3 separate regions of the Homo sapiens genome follow, and regions 1 and 2 are each linked to region 3. The links come from fine-mapping of genetic effects on gene expression. A gene starts in region 3. Each other region holds a variant in brackets. All regions are shown on one strand. Distances are between the middles of the regions. Region 1 overlaps LGR5 (leucine rich repeat containing G protein-coupled receptor 5). Region 2 has its middle 36 kb from the start of TBC1D15. Region 3 holds the start of TMEM19 (transmembrane protein 19).

Region 1 (4,000 bases), 120 kb before region 3:
CATAGCAACAATATCAGGTCGATACCTGAGAAAGCATTTGTAGGCAACCCTTCTCTTATTACAATGTAAGTGACCATAATGCTTTTCGGTTTCTCCATCCTGAAATATAGCATATATTATACTTTGAAATACAATGAATATTCTATATTTGCCTGAGTTTTGTCTTAGTCAATCTAAGAGTTCATACAGAAAGGTATATACACATGCATTTTGCCAGGTTCTAGCTGAACACTGAAATAATATAAAAGATTTTTTTAAAGATCACATTATGATTGGTATCTCCAGATGTGCTAGGTATCTTTAAAATAATCTTGTAAAATGCTTTTGATTACCTCTATTTTCTAAGAAATAAAACTGATTTTTAGAGCATTAATGTCAAGTCTGCATAGTCATTCTGAACTTAAACCCGAGTATACTAGAAATATAAATTATTATATACAAATGGATGTCTTTTACAGCAATAGACTCCAGCCTAAATTGATGGTAGGGGTTTTATACTGTTTTGTGCTAAGCCTCTATCTCCATTCATTATTATGCCCAAACATTCACATTTATACAAACTAGGATGTAATTCTAGAATGATAAATAACATTTTAGAAAGGTGTGTATGAGGATTTATATGCCATAAAAGAATAAAATCGGCCAGGCACTGTGGCTCATGCCTGTAATTCTAACACTTTGGGAGGCCAATGCAGGAGGATCACTTGAGCTCAAGAGTTGGAGGTTACAGTGAACTATGATCATGCCTCCGAAGTCTATCATGGGCAACAGAGCCCTGTCTCCAACAAAAGGATAAAATAGAGTTACAACTACAAAGTATAACTAATTTTATGTTTCATATTTAATACAGTAGAATGATGATATACAGTTCTGAGTATGAGGCTGGCTCTTAGACAAAAGGCTCCTCTCGGAGGCAGATTTGGGACACCATCAAACCTGAGGTTGTGAATGAGAAGCCTGAATATAGAGGAGGAGAGTAAGGACAACTGTTAAACATGACTCTAGGGGCACTTCTCAGCAGATGTTGGTCCTGTGCCAACTGGAGTGACGGGCTTTCTGGGACCATGTGGTATTTGTCACAAATGAGCAGGAGTCCCAATTAGCCTTGACAACCAGAAGAAAAAAACTATTCATTGTTTCTGAAATGTTCTGGCAATATTTTGGCAAACTAAGAGTTTTAAAGTACATTGACAATAAACATTAGCCCTCATTAGAGCGTATTTGCGTATTAAGAGGTTGGCAAATTACATTGCCTTTGCTCCTCCTTCTGCAGCCACAGTACTGGTTTTTCATCACTCTTTTGATATGCTAATACTCCCTGAGGAACTAGCGGCGCCAACCCCAACTCTATATATATTAGACCTCCTATCCACTATTTGACAGTGGTGACCACTTTCTCCCATAAACTCTCCTCTCCTTGCTCCTGCATCTGTTTCCATCTCTTCAAAGCCCGCATTTCTGTGAATGCTTTCCAGGTCCAGTTGGCTACCCACTCCTCATTTCCACCTCTGTAGTCCCCATCCTATCCATACCTCCTGACCTCCACTGCACCAGCCTCTCTGCCAACCATGACATCCAGATTTTCACCAGTCTGCGTGAGGCTGGCCTCCCTCCCTTCACCGTTGGCAGCACTCATCTTCCTTGAAGCACGGCAACCATCTTGTTACT[T/G]CTGCTGTGAAATGTGCGTTCAGGATGTCTATTTACACTAAATGCAAACTCCTCATCCTGACATTCACAGTCTAAGGCCACACATGGCCTAAGCCAACCCTGTCAACCAGTTCCCCAAAGCTCTCCTCATTCACCCTAATTCATAAACCAGACTGACTAAGTTATGTTCACGGAACAAAGCTCTTTTCTTACTTCCTTTGCTCCTACGATCCCATTCCCTCACTATGCTTCTTGAAATTCTTTCAGGGCCCATTTTAAAAGCCATTTCTTGAAGTTTTTTATAATCTCTCCCGAACATATGAGAGAGTTCCCTCCTGAGAACCCTAAAACTCCTTATGTGTGTTTATGATACTTCTGCCTTATGCACACAAGCATGTATATTCATACCTGCCCAGTGTGTGTGTGTGTGTGTGTGTGTATATAGTGTGTATATATATACTGTGTGTATACATATACATATATACATATATATGTACACACACACCGTGTATATATGCATATATACGTATCTGTACACACGCACTGTGTATATATGCATATATACGTATCTGTACACACGCACCGTGTATATATGCATATATACGTATCTGTATACACGCACCGTGTATATATGCATATATACGTATCTGTACACACGCACCGTGTATATATGCATATATACGTATCTGTACACACGCACCGTGTATATATGCATATATACGTATCTGTACACACGCACCGTGTATATATGCATATATACGTATCTGTACACACGCACCGTGTATATATGCATATATACGTATCTGTACACACGCACCGTGTATATATGCATATATACGTATCTGTACACACGCACCGTGTATATATGCATATATACGTATCTGTACACACGCACCGTGTATATATGCATATATACGTATCTGTACACACGCACCGTGTATATATGCATATATACGTATCTGTACACACGCACCGTGTATATATGCATATATACGTATCTGTACACACGCACCGTGTATATATGCATATATACGTAACTGTACACACGCACCGTGTATATATGCATATATACGTATCTGTACACACGCACCGTGTATATATGCATATATACGTATCTGTACACACGCACCGTGTATATATGCATATATACGTATCTGTACACACGCACCGTGTATATATGCATATATACGTATCTGTACACACGCACTGTGTATATATACATATATGTACACACACTGTATATATACATATATACATATATGTACACACACTGTATATATACATATATACATATATGTACACACACTGTATATATATACATATATACATATATGTACACACTGCATATATACATATATACATATATGTACACACACTGTATATAGATACACATATATGTACACACACACTGTGTATATATACACATATATGTGCACACACTGTATATATACATATATAAATATATGTATACCCACACACTATATATACATATATGTGTATATATACATACGTATGTGTATATATACGTATGTGTGTATATATACGTGTGTATATATATATACGTACATGTATGTGAACACAATTATATGCATAAAGTACATGGTATAGCTAAGAGCTGATAAGATATTAAGAGGAAAGCTCCATTTTTCATCATAAGGCCCATATTCCAGCTCTAGCTCTTTCTCTTACTGATTAATCCCAAGAGAAAAGAAGAGCTCAGTGGGTAGGACAGAAGAGGATTTAGGTTTGTTGGGTAGCAACTGTATCCCAGGTTCTATTTCAAATGTTACACATGCATTAGCTCTTTTAATTCTTATCCAAACCCTACCACTAAGCATTATTATCTCAGCTTAACAAATTAGAAAATTGAGGCTCTAGGAGGTAATGAGCTTGCCAAGGTGTCTGAGCCTCAATTTTCTCTTCCAAAAGTGAAGAAAATAGTATCTACACTATGAATCTCATAAAGTTGTTGCATGGATCAATTGAGCTATATATATATATATATATATAGCTCATATATAGACATATATACATATACATATATATATATATATAACACATACATATATGCAAGAGCTTTGTTAAGTAGAAAGTGATATGCTGTTATTTATTTGCTTTATCCCAACTGAATCCAGGCTCCTTTACCACAGGAACATCTTATCATTCTTCTTCAAACCCCCAGCATCTAGTATAATGCCAAGTCCAAAGTAGTTACCCAATGACAGCTTTTTAATGAATCAATCTTTAAATCCTCACATACCTACCCTCATACTTTAAACGTGGTAGACATTAGTGAATATTTGTTGAGTTTAATTGGACTAGAAGAATGACTCAGCTAAAAAGTATATGGCAC
Region 2 (4,364 bases), 120 kb after region 3:
ACAGGCATGAGCCACAGCAACTGGTTCTCGAGTGTCTTTTGAAGAACAAAAGTTTTTAATTCAGTTGAAGTCCAGCTAAATCTTTTTCTTTCTGAATTGTGTTTTGGTGGTGTTTCTAAGAAATTTCTGCTTAGCTCATGGTCACAAAGATTTTCTCCTATGTATTCTAAAAGTTTTATCGTTTTAGGTTTTACATTTAGGTTTATGATTCATTTGGAATTACTTTTTGTATATGGTACAAGGTAAGAATTGCAGTCCATTTTTTTTGTTCCAGCACTAGTTGTTGAAAAGGCTATCCTTTCTCCATTGCATTGCTTTTCACTTTTTTTTTTTTTTTTTTTGAGACAGAGTCTTGCTCTATCGCCCAGGTTGGAATGCAGTGGTGTAATCTTGGCTCACTGCAGCCTCCATCCACCTCCTGGGTTCAAGCGATCCTCCCTCCTCAGCCTACGGAGTAGCTGGGACTACAAGCATGCACCACCATGCCTGGCTAATTTTTTAATTTTTTATAGGGACAAGGTCTCTCTATGTTGCCCAGGCTGGTCTCAAACTCCTGGGCTCAAGAGATTCACCTGCCTCAACCTCCCAAAGTAGTCGCATTATGGGTGTGAACCACTGTGCCAAGCCTGCTTTTACACCTTTAAAAAAAATGAGTTGTTTGTCTTTGAGTGGTTATATTTTGAACACTATTCTGTTCCACTGATTTGTCTATTTTGATGCCAATACCACACTGTGCTGATTACTGTAGCTTTATAGTCTCAACATCAAATTGTGCTAACCCTCCACCTTTGTTCTTTTCCAAATTGTTTTTTATTATTATTGTAGGTTCTTTGCATTTTCATATGAATTTTAGAATCAGCTTGTTAATTTTTATAAAATAATAAAAAAGCCAGGCATGGTGGCTCATATCTGAGCCATGGTGGTGAGAAATTGAGTGTGATAGGGGAAAGGGTGGGAAGCAAACTTCTATTAATAACTGGATACCTGTTTGTATTTTTTTTTGCGGGGGGATGGAGTCTAACTCTGTCGCCCAGGCTGGAATGCAGGGTGCAATCTCGGTTCATTGCAACTCACTTGAACTCCCAGATTCAAATGATAGTCTTGCCTCAGTCTCCTGAGTAGCTGGGATTACAGGCACCTGCCACCATGCCTGGCTAATTTTTGTATTTTTAGTAGAGATGGGGTTTCACCATGTTGGTCAGGCTGGTCTCGAACTGCTGACCTCGTGATCTGCCCACCTTGGCCTCCCAAAGTGCTGGGATTACAGGCATGAGCCACCGTGCCTGGCCCTGTTTGTATTTTTTTTTAAGTAGAAGCCATGCAATATATTGTCTATTCCACAAAAATAAATAAATAAATAAAAATATAAATAAATAAATAAATAAAAATAAAACTTAAAGAAAGATTAGGTGTAAACAGCATATACTAAAAAACTGAGTATTTTTACTCAAAGAAAACGAAAAATGGGATAAAGGAAATGACAGAGTAATAAATTAACAAAGATAAATTTAATCATTTAAGAATACTTGGTATTTGCAACGGACTTTGAAAGAAGAGAAACATGGATCAATGGTAACATTTTAAGAGAAGTAACATTTTAAGAGGAGGATATATGCAAAGTCATAGAAATGGGAAACAGCAAATTTTAACTAGCAAATTAATTTGGCTGGGTCACTGGGCTTGGTAAGGGAAATAAAAAGGAAAGATGAGCAGGTGCTTTGCAGGAGAATCAAGACTAACCTAAATGGCAATTTCATATGGTTCAACCCGATACCTCAGGCACATATTTACTTTCAACTTTCTTAATTTGGCCAATAGATATTTAATAAGTGCCTGTTATTCATCAGGTCGAGTGCTAGGTGCTGCATGTGTTCACAGTGGTAAACCAAATGGACATGATCCCTGTCCTAATAAAGCTTTTAGTCTAGTGGGCATTTCTGGGCCTCAGGAAAATGAGCAACCTTTATGATCCTTTTTGTTCCAAAATTCTGGCTATATATTCAGTCTGACATTCTCTGAAAATCCCTAACCCTTTGTCTATTCTTACCATCATCTATGTAAAATTCAAGGTATTCTTTAAACTCTTTGAACTCCCTCTTCCTCACCTTTCTCTCTTATCGATATACAGTAGGGATTGAGACCATGGACTTAAAGACCAGATGCCTGGGTTTGAAATATTACTTATATTTTTCTGTGTGATGTGGACAATTAACTTTCTGTGTCTCAGTTTCTTCACTTATAAAATGGGGATAATAATGTACCT[T/C]ATAAGGTTTCTCATAATAAATGAGTTATTACATACAAAGTGCTTAGAATACTCTGACACATGGTAAATTTTAAATAAATATTAGCAATTATTGCTATTAACAGAAGATTTTGCTTATATCATTCTTTCCCTCCAGGGTTAACACTCTCTACTACCTGTATCCCACCCCTTTCTACCTGGTGGTCTTTTTATAGATTCTCCCATTTTCCCCACAGTATATTGAACAAACTGTCTCTTTACTGGCCCTTTTTCTAGAATTATAAACATGATCAAGTTCCTTCCACAAAATTCATCTTTGTGAACCTCTCTTCCTTCCTATGAAAGTTCACACTGTTGTTTCCATGTTCTCCTGTTCTCTTCTCAACCTACCACAATTTTTGACTTGATCCCATAACTCCACTAAATTGCTTTTACCTAGGTCAATTACAACGTTCTTCTTGATAACTCTTGTGTCATCCCGTTGAACCCCATAACTTCCTGTTCACCCTTCTTAAAATTATAATTTCTTCAACACTTCCTATTCCCTCTAACATAGTGTACTTTTTAGTCATTCTTTCACGTCTGTTTTCCCTGGTTGGAAGATAAAATCAGGAAGTGATATGTACAGGAGGTAGGGAGATACTGGGTACAAGGGGGCGGTTCCTTGGCAAAGACCCCACCCTCAAGTCTGGAAACCCATGGCCCTAAATGGGAACAGGCATTTCTGTTTTCAGGCCCAAATGTTGCCTTTTGGTCTGCCACACCCCCCTCTCCTGTACCCAAATAAACCCTAAACCCTGGGCTCCATGAGCAGAAGAACAGAGGAGTCAGAAGGGCAGTGCAGCAAAGAAGGAGAGATGAGGAGTGTGTGAACATTGAGAGGAGTTCGGCTGGGGACGGTTGGAGAGATCGGTGACGGGATGGCCAAACTCTAGGGGAAGGTCATCTTCCCACTCCATTCCCTTTCCAGCTCCCCAATTATCCTGCTGAGTGCTACCTCCATCTGGCAATAAAATCCCCTACATTTACCATCCTTCAATTTGTCTGTATGACCTGATTCTTCCTGGACGCTGGACAAGAACCCAGGTATCAAGAGGGCACTGAGCTGGTTAACACTTAAGCTGTCTGTGGAGAGCACAGCTGAAAGAGCACCATAACACGCCCACTGGGGCTTCAGGAATTGCAGGCACTCACCCCTAGATGCTACCATGGGGCCGGAGCCAAAAGCACTCTCATTGGCTCCTGCACCTGCCCATCTACATGCTCCCCCTTCTTGCAAGGGGTTTGAGCACGACAAGCCACATCCCTGTCACACATCCTGCGAAGGGGGTCAGGGAACTCTCATGTTTCAGGACAGTGATTTTGTCCACGTTGTTCACTACTGTATCCTTAGCATCTAGAATAATGTCTGGCACATCCTAGACTGTCACAAAATATTTGCTGAATAAATACTGAATTGTGATGATCTGTTTTCTTGTCTTCTAAATTAGAGCAGGAACTCCTTTGAAGACTGGAACTGCTGTTCTTATCTCTTTATTAGTCCTTTTGGCTCAGTGTCTGGCTGCAGGTGAATGTGACAGTGATGAGTGCATGGGGAGTCATTATGGTACCAGTATTTTTTTATTTCAATAGTGTTTGGGGTACAGGTGGTTTTTGGGTGCAGGGATAGGTTCTTTAGTGGTGAATTCTGAGATTTTAGTGCACCTGTCACCTGAGCAGTGTACACTGTACTCAAAATGTAGTCTTTTATCCCTCACCCTTCTTCCAACCTCCCACCTCAAGTCCCCAAAGTCCATCATATCACTCTGCATGTGTTTGCATCCTCATAGTTTAGCTCCCACTTATAAATGAGAACACACGGTATTTGGCTTTTCACTCCTGAGTTACTTCACTTGGTACCAGCACTTTTGTAAATGCTTCTGGATGATACTCAAAGGCCTGAGAAAGTAGTTTTTAAATTCTACTCTACTTTTTAGATCTCCAAAGAGGTGATATTAGGATTTTGCAAGCAATGGTGATTTAAGTTGCCTAAAAAAACTGTTTATCCTTTTAAATTCTATTATTTATTGAGATTTCTTTGAAATAATTCTATGCTAAAGTAAGTTTGAAATTATAGGTTTAA
Region 3 (4,364 bases):
ACTTGGTGTACACCTTATGTAAATGTAAATGAAGTACTAGCCCACAATCAGTCTGATTGGTTGTGAAAAACAACCAATTAGAGGCTGAAGCAAAGTTACAAAGTTACACTCCTACGCAAACGTCTGATTGGTTGCAGAAAGCTACCAAGCAGAGATACTTTCAATTTTCTATCTGCCACGCAGAAAAAAAGAGGGGTTTGCAAAGGGCGTAGCTTTGGGTCCTTTTGTTACTTAGGTATGGGAAGTTGGGGTTTTCCTTTTGATTTAGCTCTAGGAAGTCAGCATGAATCGGCCTTAGGTTCCCTGCCTCAATAGGAGACCCTATTCTCCTGCCTCAAGATCATGTTTAACCCTTGGTAACTGAAACTGCCTATTGCATATAAGAACTACTGTATTTTAATTATATTAACTCCTCTAAATTATTTTGGTCTTAAGCTAGAATAACTTTTATGGAGAAAAACATCTATAATTGGTCACTGAAAAAAATAGAAGGGAAAATATTCATCTAAAGGGTCAGTTCACTGACACTACTATTTAATATGCATTTTTTAGCCAGATCTAATAGTCATGAGAAAATCATCCCTGACATCCAGGGACTGACCTGACACAGCTACACCACAGTGTTGGGAGATAGCTTGACATTCACAACTAGGCTATGATTTTCCTATCGAACACCAACTAATCAGAGAGGGTCACTCTGTGACTGTGGTGAAGCAAGGCAAAAAAAAGAAAAAAAAAAAAAAGACCAGTTTATAATTTTGTCTAAGCAGAGACAAAAACAATGCGACTGTGCAAACCACAAAACATTAGCTTTCATTATTAATAATTTTACCCAGTAGTCTGGTAACATTGATACTGGCCAGTCAGCTTGGTGAAATAATCCAAACATTTACCTATGCAGAACAGACTAAGACAAAAATAAAGTAGGCACATAATACATTTCAGCATAAAGACCATATATGTATATTATCTAGTACAGGAAGCCCACTACTATTTAGTCCTACTTCACAGATTTGATTCTTAGTTAACTACTTAATTAGATGTCTTACCAAAGAAAATGACAAGCTGTCTTGGCATGTATTTTGAAATTTAAAATAATGTGAGCTTTTTTAAAGTAACTACTCTTGGGGCTTAAAACACAATTGCATACTGTGTCTGAAATGGATTTGGCTCCTCTTCTTACACTGTCAGCAATTAACTGAAAAAATTGATAAATATTATGTAATTATCAGTTAATTACTGTTAACCCAGGCAAACAAGTTAATTTCACATAAAACATGAAATCAGGCCGGGCGCTGTAGCTCACGCCATTAAACCCAGCACTTTGGGAGGCCGAGGTGGGTGGATCCCCTGAGGTCAAGAGTTCGAGACCAGCCGGGCCAACATGGCAAAACCCCGTCTCTACTAAAAATATAAAAATTAGCCGGGCGTGGTTGTGGCGCCTGTAATCCCAGCTACTCCGGAGGCTGGAGCAGGAGAATCGCTTAGAACCTGGGAGGCGGTGGTTGCAGTGAGCAGAGATCGTGCCACTGCACTCCAGCCTGGGCGGCAGAGAGAGACACTGTCTCGAAAAAAAAAAAAAGAAAAGAAAAGAAATCAGCCACGATTCAGATTTTTAATGCTAACAAGACGTTTTGCTTTCTAAATGCACACACCTTTAATATAAGGGGTGTGAGGACAGATATTTCCACAATCTAAGTGGTGTTATGACAATAATTACGAGAGCTCAGTAATAGAAACTATGTTTAACTTTACCTCGCTAGCAGCCAGGAGTCTAGCACATTATAGGTACTAAACAATGTTGTTTAGTACCTATAATGTGGTTTTGGAGAAGCAGTGCAAACGCAGCCGGCCAGGATGCCAGCAGTGCCTGCCCACGTGAGCTAGGCGACATCCCCCTAAGCGGCTGCGGCGCATGCCCACAGCGGGCGAGGCGCTAGAGGCGGGGGCGCCGGGAGGCGCGGGCTTTGCTCCTGGGGTCTCGGCCTTGGCCGGCTGGACCTGACCCTAGGGCGGCTTGCGCAGCTGTCGGGACGTGACTGCGTTCAGCCGCGTCGGGCGTGCTTCCCAGACTTGCCCAAGTTCGGGTGCCCTAGCTGCCCCTTTGCAGCCGCTGGCCTACCCGGCCCGCGGGTGAGAAGGTTGCGACGGGAGGTGGGTGGAACTCGCCAGCGCCGGGACCGCGGATTGGCTGCCTCGGCTTTCTCTTTTCCCCGTGGGCTCCGGCGTGAGGCGCTGAAGCGGCCGGCAGCCGGCGACCGGCCCTCACCGTCCGCCGGGTTGCGCTCTGCTTTTGCGGTGAGGCGTTGACCACGCCCATATGAATTGGAGCTCTCCGCCAGTAGGAGTTTCCGGAAGGAGTTTGAATTTTTGTGATTTTTATGCTTGTTTGGTCGGTGGAATATGTTGGGATTTATGTTTGCCTCTGAACAAGTGTCTTGCTCACATCGTAAATGACTTTCTCTCCGAAACGCTAAATATTCTTTCCCGCAGGAGCTCATATCCTTATTTTCCATGACAGATCTTAACGACAATATATGCAAAAGATATATAAAGATGATAACTAATATAGTTATACTGAGCCTGATCATTTGCATTTCGTTAGCTTTCTGGATTATATCAATGACTGCAAGCACCTATTATGGTAAGTCTGAGTGTTCTAAGTTGTTTCTCTGTAATCTAGTCAGAGGAAATTAAAACCATACCATTGTGAAATCCAAAACTCATATCCTCTGAATGGTTATGAATGGTTGTGTTTACTTAACTTCCATAGCCTGATTTAACTTACTAACATGATAGTATAAACAATGCCTTTAATAAATGCTTGTTGTGATAATTCGAGTTATACCTATTTCTTTTTTTTTTTAATTTTTATTTTGTATAAGATAGGGGTCCCTCTGTGTTGCTAGGCTGGTCTCAAACCCCTAGGCTCAAGTGATCCTCCCACCTGTGTCTCCCAAAGTGCTGGCAATACAGGCCACCACTTCTGGACTAGTTACACCTATTTCAAAATGTCTTTATATTTTATGTAACTATTCCATCTGTCTTGGTAAAAGATAAGTGAGGCGAATATAGCTTTGTAAAGCAATTACAGTGATGCTTTTAATTTTGAATAAGAATATTAGTAATGGGCCAGGCGCGGTGGCTCACGCCTGTTATCCCAGCACTTTGGGAGGCCGAGGCGGGCAAATAACCTGAGGTCGGGAGTTCAAGACCAGCCTGGCCAACACGGTGAAACCCCAGCTCTACTAAAACTAGAAAAAAGCTGTAATCCCAGCTACTTGGGAGATGGAGGCAGGAGAATCACTTGAACCCTGGAGGCGGAGGTTGCAGTGAACCAAGATTGAGCCACTGCACTCCAGCCTGGGCCACAGAGCGAGAATCCGTCTCAAAAAAAAAAAAGTAGTAATGTAGTTTATCAGTTTCACATGTTCTGTAAAAATAATAAGAATTAAAAACGGTATACTATTTACATTTGGAGAGCTGAAGGACTTATCTGCCATTTGGTTGCTTCAAAAGAATAGACTCCTTTTAAAGCCTAAAGCTACATTGCTTAAATATAAGGTACTCTGGACTCAGATCTTTAAAGTTTTAAAGGTGCTTTAGAGCATAAGCCTCCATTTACACAAACTTCCTTCTCCTATGAAAACAAAATACTGGTCAGTTTGCAACAAAGGAAAAATGAAAAGGAGAATGAGAATGCTTGTATCGTAAGGGATTGCCATTTCAGACTGTAGGCTTTTTGCAAAGAGACATGTGAATAGTTGGAAAGGGTTCTCCAGGCTACAGAAGCTCTCAGTGCAGTTCGTTCATAATGATTCACAGTGGGGCATCAGAGTTTTAGGGGAGGGGTGTAAGAAAAGATTCTTGTTAGTGACAGTATTTACTATGACTTGAACTAAATGGAATAAATCAGGATTTGTAAACTGAAATATCCCTCTGGGGCCAGTCACCTAATGCAAATGAATCTGTGTACGTTTTTGTGTATTAGACCTGTGGTAATAGTTTTCATTTCCAGAAATAGGATATTTCTCATCTTTTGTTGAATGCTTGGGCCCTCTTTGTCTTTCATTTCCCCTTTATTTTTCTGAGACGGAGTTTCGCTCTTTTTGCCCAGGCTGGAGTACAGTGGCACGATCTCAGCTCACTGCAACCTCTGCCTTCTGGTTTCTCCTGCCTCAGCCTCCCAAGTAGCTGGGATTACAGGTGCCTGCCACCATGCCTGGCTAATTTTTGTATTTGTAGTAGAGACAGGGTTTCATCATGTTGGCCAGGCTGGGTCTCGAACTCCTGACCTCAGGATCCTCCTGCCTTGGCCTCCCAAAGTGCTGGGATTACAGGCATGAGCCACTGCGCCCGGCCCA

The links. PIP is the estimated chance that this variant, and not a neighbour inherited with it, causes the effect. A credible set is the group of variants that fine-mapping cannot tell apart.
Region 1: its variant is the best candidate, but not a certain one, in a credible set for the expression of TMEM19 in atrial appendage (GTEx, PIP 0.67).
Region 2: its variant is the best candidate, but not a certain one, in a credible set for the expression of TMEM19 in nasal epithelium (TOPMed, PIP 0.65).

The regions. Positions count from the first base shown.
Region 1 is chr12:71,561,788-71,565,787 of GRCh38, forward strand. It overlaps LGR5 (leucine rich repeat containing G protein-coupled receptor 5), which reads left to right. Exons shown (of 18, transcript NM_003667.4): 8 at 1-65. The region is part of intron 2 of LOC105369833 (a long non-coding RNA gene); the gene reads right to left. Among named protein-coding and RNA genes, the nearest start is that of ZFC3H1, 100 kb to the right of the region's middle. The variant T/G (reference allele first, on the strand shown) is at 1,669.
Region 2 is chr12:71,801,235-71,805,598 of GRCh38, forward strand. No RefSeq gene overlaps it. Among named protein-coding and RNA genes, the nearest start is that of TBC1D15, 36 kb to the right of the region's middle. The variant T/C (reference allele first, on the strand shown) is at 2,264.
Region 3 is chr12:71,684,167-71,688,530 of GRCh38, forward strand. TMEM19 (transmembrane protein 19) reads left to right here and starts at 1,916. Exons shown (of 6, transcript NM_018279.4): 1 at 1,916-2,644. The coding sequence starts at 2,515. It overlaps LOC124902965 (a long non-coding RNA gene), which reads right to left and starts at 1,898. Exons shown (of 2, transcript XR_007063367.1): 1 at 1,756-1,898. RefSeq lists silencers at 2,188-2,257, 2,248-2,463 and an enhancer at 3,812-3,881.